3 separate regions of the Homo sapiens genome follow, and all the other regions are linked to region 1. Evidence: fine-mapped expression QTL. A gene starts in region 1. Each other region holds a variant in brackets. All regions are shown on one strand. Distances are from middle to middle.

Region 1 (8,246 bases):
AAGGATTAGAAGAATGAGGGAGTGGCAGCAGATGAGGCTAAAGAAGTGTGTGACAGACCAGTTGAGGGTTGCTGCTGTTCCCTTTTAGGCAATGGTCAGCCATTTAAAGATTTGAGGTCAAAGAGTTGTGCAATCAGATTTATGTTTTAAAAGATCCTGTAACTTAGTAATCTTAAGTCTGGCTCACATTGGAATCATCTGAGGGGATTAAAAAATACTGTTGCCTGGTGGCCATCTGATTCTAATAGAATCAAAACCTCTGGGGTGGGACCCTGGCTCTAGTCAGCTTAAAAGCTACCCCAGGTGATTCTAATATAAATCTAGGCCTGAACATCATCGACATAAATGTTGTGGGAGATGAGGTTAATACTAGCACCTGTCATAGAGTGGTCCAAGCTGACATGACTCACTATGACTCCAGGTTACTACCTCCAAACCTAATATGTTCATGGATTGCATCAATAGAAGTATAGCTTCTGAATGAGAGAAGGAGTTGTTCCTCCTCTCTTTGCGTTAGATCCAGTGTACCTGCAAAGTTTGTTCACTTCTCAGCACCACACTCAAGGAGGAAATTAAGGAAACTGAAATATTCCCAGGAAAAAAGCCAATCAGGTGACAAAGGGAATCTGAAACACGATGGAGAGAAATGGTCGAGTAGCTCCAGATATGTTTAATCTACAGTAAAAATATCCTTTGAAAAGGATAATGTAGGAATCTCAGTTTTCAAGTAAGTCAAAAGATGTTATTTATTCAATGGGTAAAAATGAGGGTCTACTATATACCCATCCTAGACATTGGAAAAATGGCAGAAAATGAAGTAGACAAAAATCCTTGCCCGCATGGAGCTTATATTCAAGTGAAGATTGAAGTTTTCTGGTTCATATGATCTTCAGTATCATAATTTTTAACCGACTTCTGTGATTAGCAACCATAGAATATGTGATAGGGAGACATATTTTAGTTGTAATTTTAGAACATTAAAAGTGGAAGTCTGTGAGAAGCAAAGAGGTCACCATGTATGGAAGGATTCCAGCAGGCACAGCCATTGCAGAGGGGATTCAGGAATCTAATGGTAAGAATAAAAAGGTGTAATAGGAAGGAGACTGATGAGGAGTCCTTTGCAAAAGTGAGAACCGAGTACAGTCCTATCGTATTAAATACTAGCAGTGCCTACATAGTTTGAGCATTTACTGTGTGCCATGCATTTCGCTAAGTGATTATCACACATTATTTCACGTAATCCTCATAACACTCATATAGGTGGAAAGAATAAAACTGTCAAATTATACTTTTTAAAAAGTTAAAAACATGACATATAAATATGAAAAGCAGATATGTCAGATATTTTACTTGACTCCTTAATTAGTGGGGGAATTGGTGTGATGGTAAGACTGGTTCCAAGAACATTTGAGGAGCTCATTATTTATAGGTTTGTTAACAAAGGGATGCTAGCAGAGACTACATTAGGTACAAGACTGGTAATGTCCTGGAGGGCAACAAATCATCACATTTGAGGTTATTTTCTCTACTGGAAAGAAATTATTTGCATCTTTATCAGATAAAAGTCTCCAAGTTAACATGTACCTGTAATAAATCTGGAAATGTTTTTCAATAGCAAACTATCTTCAACAAATGACATTCCCCTTAAATACTTCTTGAGAGGGCCTGTGAAACAATTCCCGCATATGATATTGAAAAAAAAAAGACTACCTTTTGGCTATATTTTTCAAGTTTTGCATAACATTTCTTAACATTAGAAGAATTAAGTATGTTTTCAGGATTTTCTAGCTAGCAGTTATAAAGCTGGGTCTCAAACTGAGATCTCTCCAGATGCCCACATTGAAATGAGCCACATAACAAGTCTTTGGGGAGACATGAGGGCAGGGTCTCGTGAATCATATCAGCATTGTTTGATTAGGGCTGAGTATCAGCTTGAGTTTTTTTTAAATTGATTACCAGAACATTCAAGATTAACTTCTTCAACTATTTAAAACTTCTTTTTTTTTTTCCCTGAAAAGAAGCAGGGCATAAAACGTGAATAATAAACAATAAGCGGTTCATTAGCAATTTGCTACCACTGGCTCTCAAAGACTGTGGAACCCCACGTAGAAGTCTGATTCTTTAGAATTTGCAGCAGCTATTTTCTCTGAAAGATTTCTTCCTCAACTTGTGGGATTTTATTTTGCTATTATTGTTAATTTAGGACGTTGCCATTTCCAAACATGAACATTGTAATTGTTAATAGTCTTCTATTTATAGAATGATAATTTTGAGCTCTTAAGGTATAAAGCCCAGTTCTCTGGAATGACACTTTGTTCAGCCTCATGTAACTGACTGCAGATTTGATCTCACTGTTTTTCTTTTCTGTGAGTTAATCTCAAGGAAAGACTTCAGTGTTATATTTAGGGAATAAATGGAAAGTAGCGGTATAGCTGGCTTAATGTTCCAATAAGGCTTCAGGACAGTTCTCCAAGTTTAAGGTGACAGGCCCCTATTACATAAAGTTAAAGCAGCAGAAAACTAGCCACTCAAATACTTTATTCTAGAACTCACACTAGATGGGAGAGTACAATTTGGCTTTTAGGTTAGAGAAAAGGTTTGCATTTTGCTCCATTAAAAAAAAAAGTAAACTGAAATGTATTTATAGGCAGTCATAAACACTTTACACAGATTATCTCACTGAATCCTTAACAATTCTACCAGTAGATTCTATTATGGTTCCCATTTCACAGATGAGGAAACAGATCGAGAGAGGTTAAGCAAGCTGACCAGGGTTTATAGTCAGTAAGATGCAGAGCTAAGATTAGACCCAGGCTATCTGATTAGAAGGCTAGATGATATCACCTTCCCAAATTATGCTGCAGTAGAGAAAGCAGATAGAAAAAGAGAGCACCAATCCCATTTCTAGCTTCAGCTCTGGTATTAACTGTCTTTAAAACCCTGGACAAGTCATCTCATTTGTCTGGGCCTCTACTTCCCTCTGTAAAATGAAGGGTGGAAACAATTTGGATTGGATGATCTCTGGGGTGTCTCCAACTCCAAAGATCTGATTCTGTAATTGCATCTTGACCTTAGATGTGCACACACACCTCCCCACACCGCCTCCCACCCCACTGCTTCCCAAGGCGAAAATCTAATCCTGCTCAAAGTGCCCAGTGTAATTTGATGCTAAACTCACGACCCCACCGAATCCTATTACTTACAACATCCCCTCAAGAACATACAACACTTAAAATCTGGCAAGCCAGTTCTTTAGAATAAGTTGCCAATGGGGTGTGATTTTTGGAAGTAAAATGTTAATACCAAAAACAGAAAAAAGAAACAGTTCAAAACAAATGCTCCTCTCTCTTTAAATCACCTCTTTTCTACAATGTTACCTTGACAACTTTGCTCTGGCTCTTTAGATATGGGGGTTTTTCAGTGTGGGAGAAGAGGGGTGTCCTCCTGTTTTGAGGTTTCCTCTTGTTGCATGGAAAGGGAAAATGTCAAAGGTAGAGCATCAAATCCAGCAGAATGTACACAGGGCATCTTGAGGGAGTGTCATCCAGAAATAATCACAGGTGCACAGAATTAGGACGCATTCTGATTCAAAGTACATTCTTTTCTCTTTTCTATTTTCCATAACCATAACACACATTCCAACAGCCTATAAAATGTTACATTTTTGGACCAGCACTGTTGCAGAACAGAGAGCAACAAAAGTGCCTGAAAAATAATTGCATTATTTTTAGTTGCTGCAGCAAAAAATGTACATATCAGGTTGAGGGGACAGCTCCGAAGAACTGTACCAGTGTGGAAATGCTAAAAATATTGCTCCCCCTCAAGCAATTGAAATTTTGAGCAAAGATTTAGGAAGCGGCAGGTAGGGAGATCAAATTAGAATTTACATCTCTCAGCTGTAATAAGCTTGTTATCAGGACTGGCAAGAGCTCAGGGGGCTGACAGGGGTCAGCTGGGGACTCAAGTGTAAGGAGCAAGTGAAAAAGGAGCAGTGTTGAGCAGAAGAAAGAGAGGACTTATCTCCAGCATCTAGCACTACAGAGCAGAGGCTGTGTGGAGAATGGCTGAAAAATCAGAATTGGTTGTAGAAGCAGTTTTCTTTCTGGTTGTGAGTATGAGCCCGGCAGACACCATGAGCGCTGTTGCAGGGGAGTCGGCCTGTGCTTGACACATGTGTTTCCCATTGATAGCTGGAGACAGCCCAGTAGCTGTGAGTCGGTCTGACAAAGCCATATTGAAGTACGGAGTACGGTTTCAAAGCAGTCAGAAAAAGAACGGGAATGCTGTTCAGGAAATTCTTCAGGCATGGGCAGGGACTTGGCTGCAGTTCTGCAGTTGGAAAATCTGACTGGGGCAGCTTCTGAGCGCAGGCTGGGCCTGCACACACTCAGCGGGCCGAGTGGCCACCTCCTTCAGAGCTGCTCAGCACGCCCTGGGATCGCGGGCGGTTTTCATCGGCCGGTTTGTGAAACGGACAAGAGAGGTAGGGTACTGTTCAGTTCTTGCGTTTGCACGCGTCTGTTCACTTTCTAAGCTATCTGCCTGCTGTATTTGCAGGCACTCCGAGTTTTTAGTGTGTGCATGTGTGTGTGTGTGAATTAGCAAGTTAGAACTCCGTCATGTAAACAGTTGGCATGGGGCTCCAATCTGTGCTTTTCCCCCTTTAAGGTCTGATTTTCAGCAGGGCAGAGAGACTTCTTTTGAAAGTTAGGATTTAGCTGGCAACGTTATTGTGTAAAGAGGAGTATGTGAATTCCTTATGTTGTCACCCTGCTCCAACCATCTGTAACTTTTCCTTTCTGCGTGGAAGGGCCGTTCACTGGCAAGGAAGATAATTTCAGATGAAACTGTCTGTGTGTTTTGCTTCACTTCGCAAGAGTTTTAATGGGGAGTTTTTTGTTGTTGTTGTTTTTTAATAGTAGAAAATGGCTCTCATTTTAGGAGGGAATCAGAGTTTGAAGTTTCTACGTTGGATGACACTTTCAGAGTGTCGAAACAGATATGTGTGTATGGGTTTCTAAAATCTTTTATATAGGAGTTTGACTGTCATTATCTGGGATTTGACTGTCAGTGATATATTTGCCTAGAATTATGCTGGATCAACATTTGTAATTCTGTTTCTATAATCATTTCCAATTTTCTCACTTGAAGTAATTTGCAGTTTTACTCTCAAAAAACACTTCTGTATTTTAGGAAACATAGATAATAAAAAAGTAACAGAAAATGGCAGTTTACTCAAAATTCTTCTTAAAGGACAGAGACATGATGGTGTGAATTTTATTTCATTGATCTCTTGGTTTTATTTTACACCTTACTGCAAAAGAGCTTTTTATAAAAATCAAAGTTTTAAAAATTTTCAGCACAACAGGGATCTTAGTGTTCCTCTTCAGTTTTGGTTCTTCTTTATCAACTCTATTGCAGTATAGATTTTTTCCTCTCATAGGAAAGCTATACCTTGTTTTATGTACAGCATTTAGAAAACACACAGTACAATGTCATTGCATTTGAGAGACTGGTTCAGCCCAAAGCCGAGCTAAACCTTACAACTGCTTTACAATTACTAGCACAGCAATCTGTGACAACATTGGTTTTTTCCGAACGGGGCTTGGCCAAAAGTCTGGTTGGGGAGATGGATGAATGAATGGAATCTTGGATACTTCTTGAGTAGCTGAAGAGTGACTAGACCTCTTAGGGTGGATCTCTGTGACAACAGGTGTGCATTTACTTGTGTCCTACAATCTTTAAACAAGTAGCTAATAGAAGAGCCTGAAGTTAATGCTGAAAGAAAAGTGGAGAGCCAGCATTTCTCATTGCTTCCTCTGCATAAGACCTAGAATGAGAAGGCACACATTCTGTCCTGTTGGTAGAAGGTCAGGATTTTCAGCCAGCGATTTTCTTTTTTCTTCCAAGTGTTGTACTTGGAGGAGGGACCTGGGACAGGACTGGCAGCAGGATATCTTTAAGAGATGGTTCATGAACATTTTCTTTATTAGTTTCATCTTCGTGTTGGGGTGGTGTGGGGAGGGTTTGGGGACTGCAGGGCTTGAGGAAAGGAAGGGGGTGTAGTTAGAAGTCAGGATGGACTGTGACCTTATTTTTTTCTCTAAAGTGCCTAATGAGTGAGAAAAATGCCAAGACAGATTAGGAACTGGCATGAACCGTAGTCAAGCCCACTGCCAATGAAAAAGGGAGCCTTCCATGAGCTCGGGTGTCATACTCCTCTATATTTAGCGTGCGTCAAGCATTGAGCAGAAGAGGCGTGAAATAGCAACTCCAGGTTGCAGGATTATAAAGAGCAGTGCTTGAAACTTGGTAGAAACTCTATAGTTTCTCTCTTTTTTAGAAGTAAAGTAGGGAGAAGTCAAGCTCTCTTGACATCTGAAGAGAAAAAGTAAGCAGCGGAAGGGGGAAGGATACAGAGGAAGAAATCCAGGACAGAGGTGGAGGCAGTGAAGGGAGAGGAATGGCCACAACACAAACTGGGCAGTGAGGGTGGAGGGAGGAGCCCTTGGCACAGGAATGAAACACATGTATTAGAAATAGCCAAAGCCACCAGGCACTGATTTGTTGGACTGGAGGTGTGCAGATACTCAGTGGCCTTGGTGAAGAGAATTGTTTTAGCCACTTCACCACAGGAGACTGCATGGTCAGCCTGCCCTGCCTTCTGGAAGTAATCAGAAAGCACATTTTGTAAGAATGGCATTGCCTGAGGGTTCAGATTTCCTAGGCAAGGAGGGGGCAGGCTCTTCAGACCTTATTTTTAACCCATATTTGTTCCTTGCAGAGACATTACTGCCGGGAGTGTTGAGTGAAGGGACCAGGTGGAGATGGTGAGTAATTCCCGGGAGCGAAGCTTGTTCAAGGCCCTGCTCATGGTCATTTTATTATTAACATAAACTTTTGAAAAAGAGAACAAAGTGTTATATATGCCTTATCCTGATGAAGACATTTCTTTAATTTTACTTTTTTATTTTAAAAAATCTGCAGGCCAGGCACGGTGGCTCACGCCTGTAATCCCAGCACTTTGGGAGGCCGAGGCAGGTGGATCACGAGGTCAGGAGATGGAGACCATCCTGGCTAACACGGTGAAATCCCATCTATACTAAAAATACCAAAAATTAGCCGGACATGGTGGTGGGCGCCCGTAGTCCCAGCTACTCGGGAGGCTGATGCAGGAGAATGGCGTGAACCCGGAAGGTGGAGCTTGCAGTGAGCCAAGATGGCGCCACTGCACTCCAGCCTGGGCGACAGAGCAAGATTCAGTCTCAAAAAAAAAAAAAAAAAAAAAAAATCTCCAAGGGCACATACTACATCGTTGGTTGTACATGTGTTGAGCTTCCCAAATCCAAAAATCTGAACTCTGAAATGTTTCAAAATTTGAAACTTTTTGAGCACTGACATGATGCTCAAAGGAATTATTTATTGGAACGTTTCTGATTTCGGATTTTCAGATTTGGAATGCTGAATGGTAAGTATAATGCAAATATTCCAAAAATCCAAAAAAATCTGAAGTCAGAAACACTTCTGGTTTCAAGCATCTTGGATAGTTTCCTAAGCCACGTCTGACGAACGTGCTGGTACTGGGGGCAGAAGTGGGGTTGAGAGAGGGAGGAAAGGTAGAGGTGGTCAGAAATCTTAGGTCAGGTCCTGGCTCCATTCATCTTCAGATCTCAGGTTTCCTATCTGTAAGATGATCTGATACCTCTGAATTGTTTTCTGTTTTCACAACCTATGATTTTTGTAATCCTGAGGCTCTTCCTTTTCTTTAAGAATAACTCTTAGTCTGTCTCCCTTAAGGCTGGGTGTCTTGAGTCATTTCACCCATTTCTCCATCTTTTCCTGCACTCTTTCTTTACTCTTCTTTGAACATATTTCAGTGAGCCTTCTCCTGACAAAAACTATGGCTCCTTGAGCTCAACTTAGTCATCTGAACAATGCACATTCCATGGTGAGGACTTCATACATGTGTTAACCGAAAAGGAAGAGGGTGATTGTAGGGAGAGGAAGCACAGCAAGAAAGAAAAAAATGGAAGGTGGTATCATCTTGCTGTGGAAGAAAAGTGGTTATATTGTGAACTGAGCTCAGGGTCTGCCTCAAACGAAGACTGGGGTCCTGGCTGTGTGGCCATAGGCAAGTTACATCATCTCCAAAATGTGTCCCAATTTCCTAATCTCTAAAATGGACAAGACAAAAGTATCTGCCTAATAGTGTGTTGTGAGATTGTACAGATAATGCACTTAGCATT
Region 2 (8,281 bases), 290 kb before region 1:
TGCATAATAGTAAGGTTTGTGCTTCTAGTGTACCCGTCACCCAAATAGTGAACACTATACTTAATAGGTAATTTTTTAACCCTCACCCTCCTCCCACCCTCTCTCCTTTTGGCGTCCCCAGTGTCTATTGTTTCCTTCTATATGTCCGTGTGTACCCACTGTTTTGTCCCCACTTGTAAGTGAGAACATGCAGTATTTGACTTTCTGTTTCTGAGTTATCTCACTGAGGGTAAGTGAAATAAGAATCCATGGATGAATTCTTAACCTGAAGTGTAGACCTTGAATTTGAATTTGTTGGAAGTAATAAAAGTCATCCAGTTAAACTCTCCTCTTTAATGGAGGTGAAAGCCAAGGCCCAGGGAGGTAAAGTAGCTTTCTCACATTTGCAAATTAGAAACTAAGACTATTGTTTGCGCCCTCAACCATTCAACAAATATTAGGGAGGGCATACTATGTGCAATGAATGTCCTTTTCTGTGTGCAGGGAATACAGCAGTGACCAAAATAGACCAAAGACCCTGCCATCATTGGAGTGAGCATATGATGGGGGTTACTCTGAACCTCTTTTTACTGGCTCACATTGCCCATTTTTGCACTTAATTTTTTATATCAAAGATGCCAGCCAAATCAAACTGTTCAATGCAAGACACAATCTTTTCCTCACCAACTTTCTACCAAGGGAAAACTGTGTCTTGCTAACCAAAATGAACTGCTGTAATACCCTCCAGGGATATTTTTCATCCACTGCCCAGAGGTATTTAGGTATGCCCTGCCAATTTTTAATAGTCCCTCTCTCCTACCCCACTCCTCACACTTGAAGAAACACTTTTTGTCTCCTGCAAAAGACTCCAGTCAAGCAGAAAAATGCTTTCTTTCGTTTTCACATGAGCCACCCACAGCTGAAAGATATGCAGGTGTTTCCAGCAGTGATGGAGCTGCATTTAGGATCCAGATCCAAGGGATTTGCTCTGAATTCTGTCTTTCCTTGTTCTGATGAACCTTCCTCCACCAAACCTTTTGAAAACATTTCATTAATTAGTGCGAGTCTAGATTTGGACTCTGAAGTATAAAGTACCAGAAGATATATTATCATCATTACATGAAATCAGGTCATGTAATTAGGTGCCAGAACAATGAAGCTTCAAAGCTTTCCTTTCCCACATATGAATGTGGCCATTTAGCTTTCCTAAACCTTGTTATCTTCATCTGTAAAAGAGGGCTAACCATCCGTAGTTCATATAACTCTGTACTTCTTTGTAATAGCACTTACTATAATCAATTGTGTCTTGTGTGATTTTGCTAAGTGACCAGTTATTCTCCTTCCCCCAGTACTGAGAAAGTTATTCTCAGGATGTGAAATTTCCAGTATAAAAACCAGGAAAGTTCAAGGCAAGTCAGAATCAGTTGGTCATGTGAAATTATGCAATAAACATTAAGAAACTGTTCAAGATGTGTCTCACCCACTAGATTTCATCCTTCATGCAAGCAGGAACTATGTTTGTCTTGCTGTAAGTACAGTGCCTCATGCATAGTAAGCACTTAGTCAATATTTGTTGGATAAATGTGTCATAGGATCCAATGAAAACTACTTTAGTTAAAATGTGTAGTTCAGAGCTTAGCATATTGTAAGTGCTTAATAAATGTAAGCAAGTTTTGTTATTTTCTTTTTGTGAACACCTTCTAATATCATACTTTTTGGCAATTTTTATAATACATAAATACCTTCTACATGTTTCCAGTGTAAGTTTCATAAGGCAATTAGTGAGACATAATGGATACCATTAGATAACCATTCTGTTATTTCAGGAATCAAGGCTCTTCAAAGGAATTTAATCCTAAGGTGTTTCTTAAAGTTTTCCTCGGTGAGTCTGTTTGTTTTTCTACTTTGAAATGCTAATATTATTCCCTTTTGTCTTGTGCATTTTAAAGTTTGGGATTGAATTCTACCATCTACTCGTGCAACTTTAACCTGCTGCCAAAGCCTTAACAGAGTGGTTAAAACAGTAATTTTGTCTGCCTGAAAAGTGGAATAGGGCCAGTCATGGTGGCTCATGCCTTTAACCAGCACTTTGGAGGCTGTGGCGGGAGGATCACTTGAGGCCAAGTGTTCAATACTAGCATGGGCAACGTAGCGAAACCCTGTCTCTACAAAAGAAAAATAAAAACATTAGCCAGGTATGGTGGCACATGCCTATATTTGCAGTTACTCAGGAGGCTAAGGTGGGAGAATCACTTGAACATAGATGTTTGAGGCTACAGTGAGCCATGATTGTGCCACTGAACTCCAGCTTGGAGTTCAATAGAGGGAGACCCTGTCTCAAAAAAATAAAAAATAATAATAAAAACAAGAGTAGAATGGGGTGGCTATTTAGGTGGTTCTCTAATGGCAGAGGAGAAATGTAATTTGCCTTTCTATAATCCAATAAAATGGATTGTAAAGTGACTACTTCCTGTTAACTTCCATTAGACGTGTTTCTGTGAATTATATTTAACCCATCTTCATTCTTGGAATAAGATCAGAGAAGGAACACAAAGTGATAATCTTGAAGCGTAGCATTTTGGTGAGCAAAGTATCAAAATGGTGTTTAGGAATAGTGATACCATCACAAGAAAAATTGCAGAACTGTTATAACTCTAAGAAATATTTTTTAATAGGGAAGCTGTTAGTTATATCACAGCTTTATAGTTATATACATGCTGGACACAAGAATGTGCTTTCACCTATATTATCTCATCTAAATCCTTTAAAGGCTTTTGTGATGAGGTTTCATGATCTCAGATAGACCAGGGCTTAGGGAAGCTAAATAAGCTGTTATAATTTACAGAGCTAGCTAATCACAGAATTGAGATTGTCACTAAATAAAACTTGAGTCTGCTTGCCTGGTGGGCTGAAAAAGCCAACACTGTCACCAAAATTTGCAGTGAGAGGTCATAGAGACTTGTACAGCAGGTGCCAAGCAAGGAGAATCAGGTGGCTAACACTTAAGATCCAAACTCCTCAGTGGCTTACAAGCAGAGTTTTTAAAGGCAGGGGTACATTTCAGGAAAGCAGAAGTTTCAGGCAAAATCATCAGCAGAAAGAAATGTTCAGGTCTGTCCTGTAAGCATGACTCTATCCAGGCTCCTCAGGAAGAAATTTAAAGCAAAGAATGACAGTCAGATCTCAGTCCTCATTTTCCCCTTATCTAAGGTCTATGGGAAAGCACTAGGCATTTTCCATCTGATGAGGGCCGAGGTTTCTGAAAGACAACTCAGAGACATACGTTAAGATGCTACCTTTGGTTTCTTTAGAGAACAAAACATCTTGAGACTCTAACTTACTTGGGTTACTGTTATTTAAGCTTTTTTTACTTTCTTGCTTCATGGGTTATTTATTCCCTTCCTCAATTGCTGGTAACAGGGCTAGCTAGGTGCCTGGAATTTCCCTTGGAGAGACTCAAATTTTCCTTTATTTCCATACTTGGTGGGGCCTGGTAGGTTCCTAAGAGTGGCTCATACTCTGTGTTAAGATTTGGAACCAAATATGCTTCACCCCAGAGCACATGTTTCTCCTTCTATGTCATGCTGCAGTTATTTGTTTAATAAATATAGACC[A/G]AGCTTTTTCCTGCCAAGCTCTTTGCCAAGCACTAGTGATTCAGGGTAGAGCAAAACAGACATGCAGAACCTCTCCTCATGCCACTTACAGTTTACTGGAGAGCTGGAAATTGATCAGATTGTGTCTCAGTGTCCCCATGGTTTTGTTTTGAAGACTGAATGAGAGTTGTAGTGCTTGGCACACATAAAGAGTGCTCAGTAATTTTTAGGTGACATTATTTTTATTCAATTACAACACAGACATGTAATTACAAATTTTATTACTTGCTATGATGGAAAAACATGTGGAATTGTAAAAGTAGATGACGGAGGACCAGATCTATTCTGGGAGGTGGGTGAAAGCTTCCCTGAGAGAGGCAAAAGAAGCTGGGGACAAGGAGCCATCTGAGCAGCAGGAGTGGCATGTGCAAAGGCCCTGAGGCAGAAGGGAACACTGTGTGTTCAAGGCAGTGACAGCAAGTGTGATGGAGCTGATAAAACAGTGCAGCTGCAGTCATTTTCTCCTCAATGTTTTCCCCAGTCCCAGGCATTTCTTCACATCTTTGCATTCCCCTGATGGCACCTGCACAGTTCTCAGGTCCTAATTCCCTAAACTCTGTAAGCAGGCAATTTGGCCTGTCAAATTGACCTAAAATGAAAGTTACCTACACAAACTTATTTAGGACACATAAAACATCTTGCATCTGTTGTGTTCCATCTTTAAAGATTCCACTCATAGATTAGGTAGCTTGTTGATGGCTGTGATTTAAATTCAGGAAGATGGCTCTGTCTACAAGATAAAAGATAATTGGGAATGAGTCATTGTCTTTTTAAAGAACAAACAGTGAGGTCTGGAAAATTTGCAGACACAGGTCTTGCACGTGTTAATTCCCTGCCAATGTAGACAGACTAGGCTATCTAGAAAGAAATTCCCTGGGGTTATTAAAGACCAAAAGTAATCATGCTAAAAAAGCTCTTTGAAGAAACATAATACTTATCATGTCAATATAATATATTGCATCTGTAGTAGCTACAGGGTGCAGGGAGAAGGCAAAAATGCAGGCAATGAATAGAACAAATAAAGTTTGAGGAGAGTCAAAGGTTAATGAGCCCCCTAAAAAGAAAACTAGATAGTACACAAGCCTTCCCGTAACTGTCCTATCTTAAACTTCTTTCATATCTGATATGTGGATTATTCTGGATCTGGTAGAGTGAAGATGGGGATAGAGACCAGGGAAATTACCTTTCTTATAACACCCAGAGCTGTTAGAGAACTTCAAATCATTAGGCCAATGAGAAGGCATCCTTCCCTGAAATTCATATCCTCAGCCAATCATGAGAAAGCATTAGATAGATCCTAAGGCAGGGAGACATTCTACAAAATACCTCACCAGTACTTTTCAAAAGTATCAAGGTCATGAAAGACAGGGAAAGATGAAGAGACTGTCATAGATTGAGGGAGACTAAGGAGACCTGACAACTAATTGCAATGGGATAGCATAAAGTAGGTCCTGGAACAGAAAAAAAATCAATGACATCTGAAAAAAAGTCTATAATGTAGTGAATAGTATTATGCCAATGTTAATTTCTCATCTTTCATGAATGCACCATGGCTATATAAGATGTTGATCTTAGGGAAAATTATTAGGATGTGATACATACAGGAACTCTGTACTGTATTTGCAACTTTCCTGCAAATCTAAAATTATTTCAAAATAAAAAGTAAAAAAAAAAATGGCTCCCACACACACACACACAAAATGACCAAAGCTTTCTCTTTACGAGTCAAGAAAGCAAAATTTACAGAGGCAACATGGCTACATAAAGCCTTACTTTGTTCCTTACTTTGTTAGATGGGGAATATGGGGATAAACAGCCTTTCTTCCTTGGGGATCTTTGCACTGTGTTTCTAGAAAAGGCGCAGAAGAACCTACAAAGGGCTCTTTCTCCCATACCACACATTGAGGCTGTTTTAATTTTTTTCCTGTCTAACATTGTTTTTACAAATATGCAAAGTGGTATATATTAGGTAAAAGGCAAAATCCTTAGCAGGGCCTACAAAACCCTGCTCAGTTTGGCCTCTGACCATGTCACCAGGGCCACCTGCTTGCTCGCTCTTCAATTCAGACATCCTCATCTTCCCCCTAGAAACAGAAATAGCCCTTTCCTGCCTCAGGAGCTTTTTATCAAGGTAGCATCCCAGTCCCCATATACGTAAAGACATTTGGGTTCTATCCTAAGTCAACTTCCTTTAAGAAGCCCTCCTTTATGGCCCACTCCACCACCTAGCCCTAAGAACCAATAAGACCATTTAGTTTTTGCTCCTGTCATACCCTATGCCTCTCTAGTGAATCAGCCAGCACACTTAGTTCTGCATGTTCATTTTTTACCTTCTACAGCATACTATTAATATATGCATTTCTAACTGACAATATTGATTTTCAATTTTTAAAGAAAATTTCAAATGCTGTTTGCTATTTTTATCTCTGTATGCCCCCACCCAGACCCCTCAGCATCCTGAATCAAAATTAAAGGCAACATCCTCCATTGACAAGGAAAGGAGCAAGCTCCTTGGGAGGTTTTGTTTTTGCATGATGGTATCTAAGCATGTGCTCTTTCTCACAAATTTATGGCTGGATTGCTAGGGTCTAATAAAGTACAGGCACATGGTAGATATTTAAACTATCTGTTGAATAAAATAATAAACTGAAAACTAGACAATTGAAACATTTGTCTGAACATCAACTGAGCAGTTAAGGAAAAGCAACACTTGGAAATCTAACTTACCTAGACTTAAAGAATTGTATGTTTTCTCATTTCTCATTTCAGCTTTTATACCTTGCAGGGTATCCAATGAAGCTCCTTTTACTACGGAGAGAGTAGTTTCCTTTTTCTGTTTCAGCATCGTGAAAGAGAAAGAGAAGTAACATATCGTGGGAGATGTATTTGCAGAAAAGCTTCAGTTGGCTCTTGTCATGACTCCTATATAAAAGAAAAAAAATCCTCTAAACTGCTCTAGAAATGAAAGAGATTGATGTGCAGTCTCTTCAAATTCTTCTGAATGGTGCACTGTGAAGATAAGTTACAGTGAGTGTCAGGCCATTTGTAGGAGCAGCAGGTTCCACACAAGGAGTTTTATGTGGGAGAGAGTAGCTAAAAGTGGAGCTCCAAGACAATGGAGATTAGCAAAGAGCTGTCATCCAGCTTCTGACATAGGTTTATACTGACCAATGGCAAAAGCATGAAGTGATACAGAGGTAAGCGCTGTATAAATATAATCATTATCGTCATCACCATCATCATTGGTGCTTCACCCCTTGCATATTCCTTTTACATTAAGCAGACCATTTGCTAGATAATTTTATGGGAATTGTATGTAGCACTACTGTGCTACAGCCAGAGAAGGATTTACTGATGAAGCTTAAGCCTTGGCGTCTCCGACAAGCGGGAGCCCCTTTCAAGAATGTCCACTATATTTTGTGTTTATAATTTTATATTCTCTTTCTTAAAGAGCATCCCACAAATTGTGTAAGCTTCTAGCCCCACAAAATGTGGATCTGTCCCTGATTATAATTATCCAGTAGAGGAACTCAAAAATACCATTGTGGAGTACACAACAAGCCAGATGACACGTGTTTTTATGCTTTAGGGCAGCCAGCACTACTAGCACACTGCATACCAAGTAGAAACTGATTAGATCCTTGTTGAATTAAAATCGGTGAGTGTGAAAAGCCACCACTTTCCACTCTTCTGCATTTGCTGTCAGAGCAAATGAATTCATAGGCCTAGGTGGTGTGGTGTAGTGTGCAGGATCTCTCATCCAGCTGTTGGTGACCCTCCCATGAGTGTGGGCAGATGCATGCCTTCATTTCCACTTAGATAACATTTTTCATTATCTCTTATAATGGGGCATCTAATATTAAGTCTTACATCAGATTATTTTAGGGCTTTGAAAATCCTCTACTGAATCTAGTGCCATCCTGATGGAGCTTGGCCCAGTGATGTGTAAGCCTCTAATTTAGGAATGTACTGGCTGAAGGCCCATTTTGATTTTATAGTAGCCTATTAATAAAACATCATCAGATTTAGAATCTCAATTCAAAAAAAGTAAACTTCTTGGGATTTTTCTGTTATTGTTCTGAGGCATAAACTGTGATGTTCTGTGTTTCCTTCTGAAGTAGATTTGAAATAGTGTTTTTTTCCAGTATCCTTCCCAGCATCAGCTCAATGTCAGGACTTATAAAAGCATAATCAGATGTGTATCTGGAGGCACATCATACCCTTTTTCCCTCTGTAAGTTATAAACCAATTGAAAAGTCAACACAGGCCTCACAGATAAGCTGAGCTAATAAAGATGGCCTAGGCCAACAGCACCTCTGAATCAGGTTGACTTATCCACAGTCTAGCGTGCTGAGCCCCAGAATGGGTTGATTGCCTTGTACTTCGGTCCAGTTCCTTCCTTACTGGGAAGATTATCCCATTCTCCTCATTTGCGCATGGAAGAATGAGGAAGGATAGGAGCACAGGTAGAAATTTTTTTCCGATACTTCCGAAAGGCAGACACTGTTATTTAGTAGGGAAGGGTAGAAATATCAGAAGAGAGATGGTGGAGAGGAGGGCCTGAAGGAAGAATGTTCTGCCTAAAGTAGAGATCGAGTTTTTTAATTGATTTTCAACAGGATTGAAGTTATTCATTTATCATTCATCCA
Region 3 (8,000 bases), 160 kb after region 1:
AATGGTGCAATCTCAGCTCACTGCAACCTCCGCCTCATGGTTTCAAGCAATTCTCCTGCCTCAGCCTCCTGAGTGGCTGGGATTACAGGTGTGAGCCGCTACGCCTAGCTAATTTTTGTATTTTTAGTAGAGACGGGGTTTTGCCATGTTGGCCAGGTTGGTCTCGAACTCCCAACCTCAGATGATCCACTCACCTTGGCCTCCCAAAGTGCTGGGATTATAGGGCTGAGCCACTGTGCCCAGCTCAGTTGCCATTTTTAGAAGCCAAACCCTACTACCTCTTAGTCCTTTCTGGTAATTCAGCCAGCTCCTCTGATTGTCTTTCACCTGAGAGCCAAATCGGCCCACTCTCATGTTTTATTTGATCTTGTCAGTGTTGGGAGGGGATATATGTATACATACAAAAATTTAACATTAAGACACTTTTAGATTAAAAAATATAATTCAAGATTCTTTATTTATTTTTATTTTTTTCCTGAGACAGTCTGGCTATGTCACCTAGGCTGGAGTGCAGTGACATGATCTCGGCTCACTGCAACCTCCACCTCCCAGGTTCAAGCGATTCTCCTGCCTCAGCCTCCTGAGTAGCTGCGACTACAGGCACGCACCACCATGTCTGGCTAATTTTTTTTGTACTTTTAGTAGAGACGGGGTTTCAACATGTTGGCCAGGCTGGTCTTGAACTCCTGACCTCAAGTGATCCAGCCGCCTCGGCCTCCCAAAGTGCTGGGATTACAGGTGTGAGCCACCACACCTGGCCAGATTTCAAGATTCTTATCAAAGATATTTAACTGGAGCTGAGAAACTCTGCCCTGTCAGGGTCTGTTCTCTCTGAGTTTCCATGTGGGTGCCCACTTCAGTCATTAAGCTCATGGGCCCAACCTCTGTAGGCATTTGAGTTTGGGACCCCTGTCTTAGACTTTAAAGCACTAAGACCTAGGGAGTATTCACCCATTTTGCTCCTACCCCTGTGGCATCTTACCTATGCTCACAACTCCAAGAATCCCTGCATTTGTCCTTTTGTTCCAGTACAATGAAGAGTAGAAGAAAGAAGATACAAATGCACTTAGGAAACAGGCCTGGCTTTCCTAAAAGTCTTGGAGTGATTTCTTTCCTCTTCTTTCTTTCTTTAATTTTGTTCTTAGAGAGGAGGTAGAAGGCATTGTTGACACAAATCACCCATTCACAGGTTACTGACTGATACAGCGAGTTTCAGAATCTGCTCTCTTGGTTCTTCCAACACTTTCCATAAAGAAGTTACCCGCTTTGACCTGAATATATGCAGTTGCTACAATTTCAAACCAAAGCAGACACCAACAGCTGCTGTCTTGCCCTGGGAGGAGCCCCTGTGGGTGGAAGATCAGCCCTCCAGCTGTCTTGGCTTACATTTCTTCACCATCTGACTGGGATGGCTGATGCAACAGCAAGGCAAGTTGCTGTCACAAACACTCTGAGTAGTCAGTAGGGAAATGTGCCAGTGAGCATGTTCCCTTGGTCTTGAGGGTTGTCTGACTGTCATTTCTCTGAACTTACCTGTATGAGTATGTTCAACTCTACCTAACAGCTCTGCCTTGATTAGACAGACTGTAATGGACTGGTAAGTAATGGAAGAGTTCAGAGGAAGTGATGCTTTGATTGGAGTTTTGATTCCATTCATCTGAAGTTCCCTCAGTTGTATTGCTCTGTTTCGTTGGATTCTTCTCAAATGCTTTCACTCATGATAGCAAAATGGCAGCAGCTGCTCCAGGCATTACATTGGCATACCACATATCTACAGTATGATAGAGCTTGTCTTTCCCCAGTCTCTTCTTGAATAAAAACCCTGGGCTTCACTCTAATTAAACCAACTTATTTCACATGCCCAACCTGAACCAGCCACTGTGCAAAGGAAATCAGATGACCTTGATGGCTTTTAGCTGGGATCTTTCCTTGACACTGGTGGTAGAGTCATACTGCATGGCTGCTACCCCAGATGGCACATGGGCCGTTATAGTAAGTGTTCTAATAACTTCTTTAGCTAACTAGATTTGTGGGGGAATGAATTAATGTTTTTCTGAAACCCTGCTCTCTTCTGGAGATAATGCTGGGTGCTTTACCTACTTTGCAATTGCCACTACTGAAAATCAATTGTTCTTTTTTAATTTCTCTAGAAAACTCTAAAAGCTAAATCTTAGGTGATTAAGGAACGTGCTCAATGGGTCTTAAGATGTCCATTAGGCATTAACACTCTTATTGCCTTCAAAGGCCACAACTACAGAATACTATGTAAAAGGTCACAATATATCTGAGAATTTGGTGGGAGGAGTGCTATAAAGTAATGGAAAGATGATTCCAGGAGCGAGTTCCAACCCATCCACTAATCGTTTTACATTATCACAGTTTTGAACATATTTCTGAATTTCTCAGGGCATTGGTTTTTGTCATCTGACAAATCAAGAGCACAGTAATAGTATGACTCCATAATGTTGGGGTAAAGATTGGTATAATTAATACGGTATAAAAGCACAAAGAAGGTCCATAACAAAAGTAAGTATTATCTCACCTAGAATATTGGTATGCATTAAGCTAGGGCCACAAACTCAAAAACCTACAAGGACTGGCTAGTGACAAGTAGATAAAAAGGCCCTGGGGAAAGTTGGGGGATGGTAGAGGTCTATGTTATTGGGGAAGGCTGGGAGATGGTAGGGGTCTGTGTCATTGATATTTTGGACTTGATGTCCCTGACCCTGTGGAAAGGTGAGTGGCTGCTCAGCCAGTTGTAATAATGTGTGAATTTGGGCCTTCTTGCTAAATCTTATGACTTTTCAAGAGAAACTCATAATCTAAGTGTCTTAGTTTTTGCTTTCCTTTATTTTTTATTGAATACACTTTGTGGATCCAAAAAAACTACATCTGCCAGCCCAAAATAGCCCGTGGGTGCCTAATTTGAAACATCTGTTATTATATGTCTCTTGATCTACATGACCCTGGGGTTTTCTTATCTGCATCTATCAGAAGAGGGAGATAATAATAGTACCTGCCCCCACAGGATTTTAGGGAAGAAGAAGAAATGTTTCTACTGTGAGTTTCAGATCCCTTACTAGGGTGAGTTATGAAAGGAGACTAACAGAAGCCTGTTTCATGGAAACATCTGAGGTCAAGGAGCACACCTGGACACAGAACCCAGGATCAGGGTCGGAACCCAGGGCCAAGGATTTGCTTTCTCTACTCCCTGTGGCCTCTGTGAGCAAGTCTTTGAAGAGGTGCCAGCTTCCTTTTGCATCATTAATCCTGA[C/T]TGATCAGACACCACCTGCTTATGCCACGTTCAGGGACAACTGTAGACAGTGACTCAGGAATCAGCGGGACCCACAGACCAGGCAGTCTGGTCCCAGTCCCCTCAAACAGAAACTTGCTCCTTTCCCACATCTGTGCCTGGGTGTCACAGTCCGAATGTCAGGTATTTAATGAGATGTTGAGGAAAGCAAAGCAGTTGCTGAGACTGAAATATCAGCATTTGAGCCAAGGCGGAACCCAAGGGATTAGGTGTTGGATTCTAGTGCTATGGGGTAAAGCAAGTTTTGCAAGGTCATTGCAGCCTGAAAGATCACTATGATTTCAGTTCGTGCTGGAAGTTTTCAAAAATTGAAATCCTGAAAAAAAAAAACTGCTAACATATAGAAGATGCTTAAATCTCCACTGTCCGATATGGTAGCCACCAGCCACACACAGGAACACTCAGCTCATTATCTATTATATAGGAAGGGTAATATTGTTTCACTTTGTTGTTAGTGTTTTACACATATTAGCATTCCATAATAATCATTGAATCAATGAATGAAATAACTATAACTTCGTTTTTTTCTCCTTGAAGAAAGGGTCATATGTTTCTTCTGCCATTTTTTTAAATCTCAAAAATAGGGACAGTAATGGTTGCTAACTAGGCTTTGATAGATAAGAAGCTCTATGTTCTCTTTAGAAAAATGATCCTCTTTAAAGTCAAAGTATCATAATTCCATTGTAAATGAGTAAGATGATAAATGCCTTTTAAGCCTACTTGTATGATCTGAAGAAGTATCAAGAGCTAAAAAGAAAAATAACATTTATAAAACACTTTTCAAGACACTTATGTGAACATTATCAATTTCTATCCTCCCTACAAGATAATGAGTTAGAGCAGGTAGTATTATCCTTTTGGTCAGTTTTTTTTTTTTTTTTTTTTTTTTTAAGTAAGCTGAGACTAGCCATATTTGAATTGTTTAGGGTGGGGTTTCTCAACCATGGGACTTTTGACATTTTGGACTGGAGAATTCTTTGTTGCACAGGACAGTCCTGTGTATCATAGTATATTCAGCAGCAACCTCAGCCTCTAGCCACCAGATGCTGTTTGTTCCCCCACTCCCCCTTGTGACAACTAAAAATGTTTCCAGACATTCTTGCCTCATCTAGGCCTCATGAATGGTATTTGAGCAAAGACCTGAGTTAAGTGAAGGAGCCAGCTGTGCAGAGAGCCTGGAGAAGAGCCTTCTGGGCAGAGGGAGTAGCAGATACAAAGGTTCTGAGGCTGGATCCATTTAGTGTGTTCAGAGGACCAGTAAGAAGGTCAATGTGGCTGAGGTGGAGTTGTATTCTTCTCACTTTGCCTCCTAGCCCCCATGATCAAGCACTTGCCTTAGATGAAATCTTTCCTTTGCTTAGGTGCATGTTCAATATTTAACAGGTGTCAGACTGAGACATTTTTAGAAGGCAAAGAATCTCAGATGTCTGACTGTGAGGGAGAAGGGAGTCACCCCAAGGTTGAGGGGAGAGAATTGATACAAATTGCAGCTGACACAGTACACAGGGGCATACTTGCAGTCAATGCTTACTGACTTCTGCTACACACCCACGTTCATGTTACCTCATTTTTGCATTTGTGCATCGATAACCAAACAGAAGGCGAGGCCTGGGCATTTGGCAACTTCATTTGTATGTGGAGTCAACCATGGGGTGCATTCGGATTATTTCTTTTCTTCTGCATTTCTTAATCTCTCTCTTGAGAGCAGTCACCTTGGTAACTACCCTGGTGCCTTGCACATGGACTATGGTGAGTAAAATGTGTTTTTATGACCCTCAAAATAAGAGCCAAATACTACTTTATCCATTAAAAATGAGATTCACTTCTCTATGTGGCATTGTGGCCAGGTTTTTAAAAAATACCTGGTTTGGGGGCATTCCCGCTAACATTCTTACCAACTTTGAGACAGTGCTCAGAGCAAGTGCACTGAGCTAAATCGAGATGAAAGAGGCAATAATCTGCTGCCTAGTAGAATGGCTTTTGCAGCCTGATGTTAAAGGTTTCAGGATTTGAAGGTTAATCTGCAGCAGCAGAAGGAAACTGTTAGTACTTCCGCTAGTCTGAAATTGACATCCCAGAAACCGGCCCTTTCTAATAAACAGAGAAACAAACTCCAGTGAATCCCACATGTCAAGCCTAGACCTAAGGGAAATTACTCTGTGGGCTTCTGTCTGAATCCACTAAAAAACTCATACTCCAGTCAACGACATTGTCATTAAAGAAAAGGGAAACGTGAAATAATCCTAGCCTCAGAAATCTCTACCATTAACAGAAGGCCTTCTTTTTCCTGAAAAGATAGAGTATGTGAAGGCCACATCTCTATTTTTAAAATAAAGCAAGAGAAGTAACATTTATGGAGCACACACAACATGCCATGTACTACACTAGGTGACTTGAATATGTTGTTAAATACTTTATAGAGGAGGAAACTGCAGATAAAAGTATCAAGTGACTTGCCCAAGGTCATGTAAGTAATAAAGAGCACAACCGGCATTTACGAATGGGTCTTCTCAGTGCTAAAGCTGCTACTGCAATACTCTGTAAAAGACATTTATAAATTCGAAGTTAAGGAAGAAAGTATTGAATTATTCCCTAAGCTAGTATCTTAATTATATAATTGCTTGTTAAACTGTACATTTTTTCAAGCTGTTCATATTCCCCTCTTATCCGGATACTCGGAAATGGCTTTTTTGTATTCCTGTACCTGGTCTCATTCTCACATATATATTAGTCATGGTTACAATATACAGTTTTTAAGACTTTCTCATTAGAAGATATGGTGTGATGAAAAAGGTGGCTGAAATGATGAAAGATGATTGAAGAGTTTTTCTCGGGTCCCCTTGGAATGAATAACACATGGCCATTTATGTCACAGTGTTTCCTTCTACCTGAGCCTGGTAATTTCCAGGGGTCATCTTGGTTAAATTAGTTTTTAATTCCAAAATATTGTTGCTGGAAATGTTCCCACTGGCCAATTCATATCTCCTGAATAATAGGATTTGAGCCAAAATTGAAAAGTGCCAGTAAAGTAAATGAGGAATATCTGCCATATAACCTTTGGAAACAAACTTTTTTTTTTTTCATAACGATTTTTACAAGTGTAAGAAGTTGTTACTGCAATGCATGTGTCTGACATTCCTAAGAAACAGAGGTACTCTTCAGGACATTCTCCAGCTAACTTGAGGTCTCCCTCACCAAACCTTTTAGACATGGACTGAGGGCTGTTTTATTCTATGCACTCATTTTGTGTATCTCTTTCTTCCACATTTTGAGTATAAGGGAGGCTTCCTGCTTGTTAATTTTTCTGACATACTCAAGTTGTACAGAATGTAGGAAAAAACTATTTCTTCCTTATACTCAAAGTATATAGAGAGAGCCATTAATAAAGGTGGAAAAAGGAAATGCTAGAGGGGCCTTCAAAATGGCTGTGTGGGCCATGCGTGGTGGCTCACACCTGTAATCCTAGCACTTTTGGAGGCCAAGGCAGGTGGATCACCTGAGATCAGGAGTTCAAGCCCAGCCTGGCCAACATGGTGAAACCTGTCTCTACTAAAAATACAAAAATTTAGCTGGGTGTGGTGGTACACGCCTGTAGTCCCAGCTACTGGGAAGGCCGAAGCTGGAGAGTAGCTTGAACTCAGGAGGTGGAGGCTGCAGTGATCACGCCATTGCACTCTAGCCTGGATGGCAGAGCAAGACTCCATCTCAAAAATAAAAAAAAAATCGCTGTGTGTGGAGATGCCCAGCATTTGCCTCCTCCACAAAAAATACAGGACAAAGCAACAGGTAGATAATCCCACACTGAAGGAGCGTCTTTGTGAGAACACTGAAACTCAGCAGGGAAGTGATATTGGAGCTCTGAGGCAGGGAAGGAGAGAGAAGTGAAGCAGCTAGTCCAGCTGAGATCAGTTCAGAGCCAGGAAAAACTCCCCAGTGCAGAGAAAAGGTGAGAGATCCCCAGCAGTTCATGTTCCCACCAGGGACTCCTGCAATCCTAGTTACAGAAGAGCTCCTCAGGTTTTGCAGGTCCTGAAACTAGTATAGAGAGATACCATGCAACAGCAGTGTTCCAGAGAGGGAGTCCACACTAGGTCCCACATCTCTCCAAAGACCCAAGCAACTGTAGCATGATGCCATTTTGAGATCCCAGCTCTCAGCAGACTATATCCTGCCCTGAGGCCCAAGAATCCCTGCATCTCCACATTCCTGGAGCCCCACTGCCATCCCTTCATGTCCACCCAGAAACCTGTGTGTCACAGTTTTCTGGGTGGACATGAGGAGCTAGTGGTGCATCTAGATCTTCAGAACTCTATCACACATGATGTCCCTACTCCTTGGGAAACAGGCAATGCAGGGTACGCCAGAAAGGCTGCCCCTGAGACAAAGGAGACTGAAGTGGGCACTTCCAAAAACATCAGAACTGACTGCCTGAAGCCAGTGCCACTGATAACAACCCTGCCTCCTGCAGTAGCAGAGCTGTTGTGCACCTGTACATGCCTTCAAGGGGTCTTGGGACTGGCCCTGCTGGATGTCCTTTTGAAACCTGAGGATCTCCTCTGCCTATCACCACCCCTGCTAGTGCCCATCTGTACTATCCATGAGCTAGAAGGTCACCCAGCCCCACCCACTGATGTCAATGCCTGCATACACTATTGCAGGCCTGAGGACAGCATCATCTCACCTGCCA

Alleles and levels. Alleles are on the strand shown, and positions count from the first base shown. SD is a standard deviation of normalised expression in the study named. Not every link is listed here.
With allele C in place of T in region 3, the expression in adrenal gland of the gene that starts at base 4,415 in region 1 is higher (moderate effect, 0.62 SD a copy in GTEx).

Evidence for each region. PIP is the estimated chance that this variant, and not a neighbour inherited with it, causes the effect.
Region 2: its variant is fine-mapped to the expression of SGCD in aorta (GTEx, PIP above 0.99).
Region 3: its variant is fine-mapped to the expression of SGCD in adrenal gland (GTEx, PIP above 0.99).

Annotation. Positions count from the first base shown.
Region 1 is chr5:156,322,750-156,330,995 of GRCh38, forward strand. It overlaps SGCD (sarcoglycan delta), which reads left to right and starts at 4,415. Exons shown (of 9, transcript NM_000337.6): 1 at 4,415-4,483; 2 at 6,785-6,830. The coding sequence starts at 6,828. All of the region lies in intron 2 of LOC124901120 (a long non-coding RNA gene), which reads right to left.
Region 2 is chr5:156,033,295-156,041,575 of GRCh38, forward strand. It overlaps a transcript of SGCD not described here. Among named protein-coding and RNA genes, the nearest start is that of SGCD, 290 kb to the right of the region's middle. The variant A/G (reference allele first, on the strand shown) is at 3,594.
Region 3 is chr5:156,478,636-156,486,635 of GRCh38, forward strand. All of the region lies in intron 3 of SGCD (sarcoglycan delta), which reads left to right. Among named protein-coding and RNA genes, the nearest start is that of SGCD, 160 kb to the left of the region's middle. The variant C/T (reference allele first, on the strand shown) is at 3,275.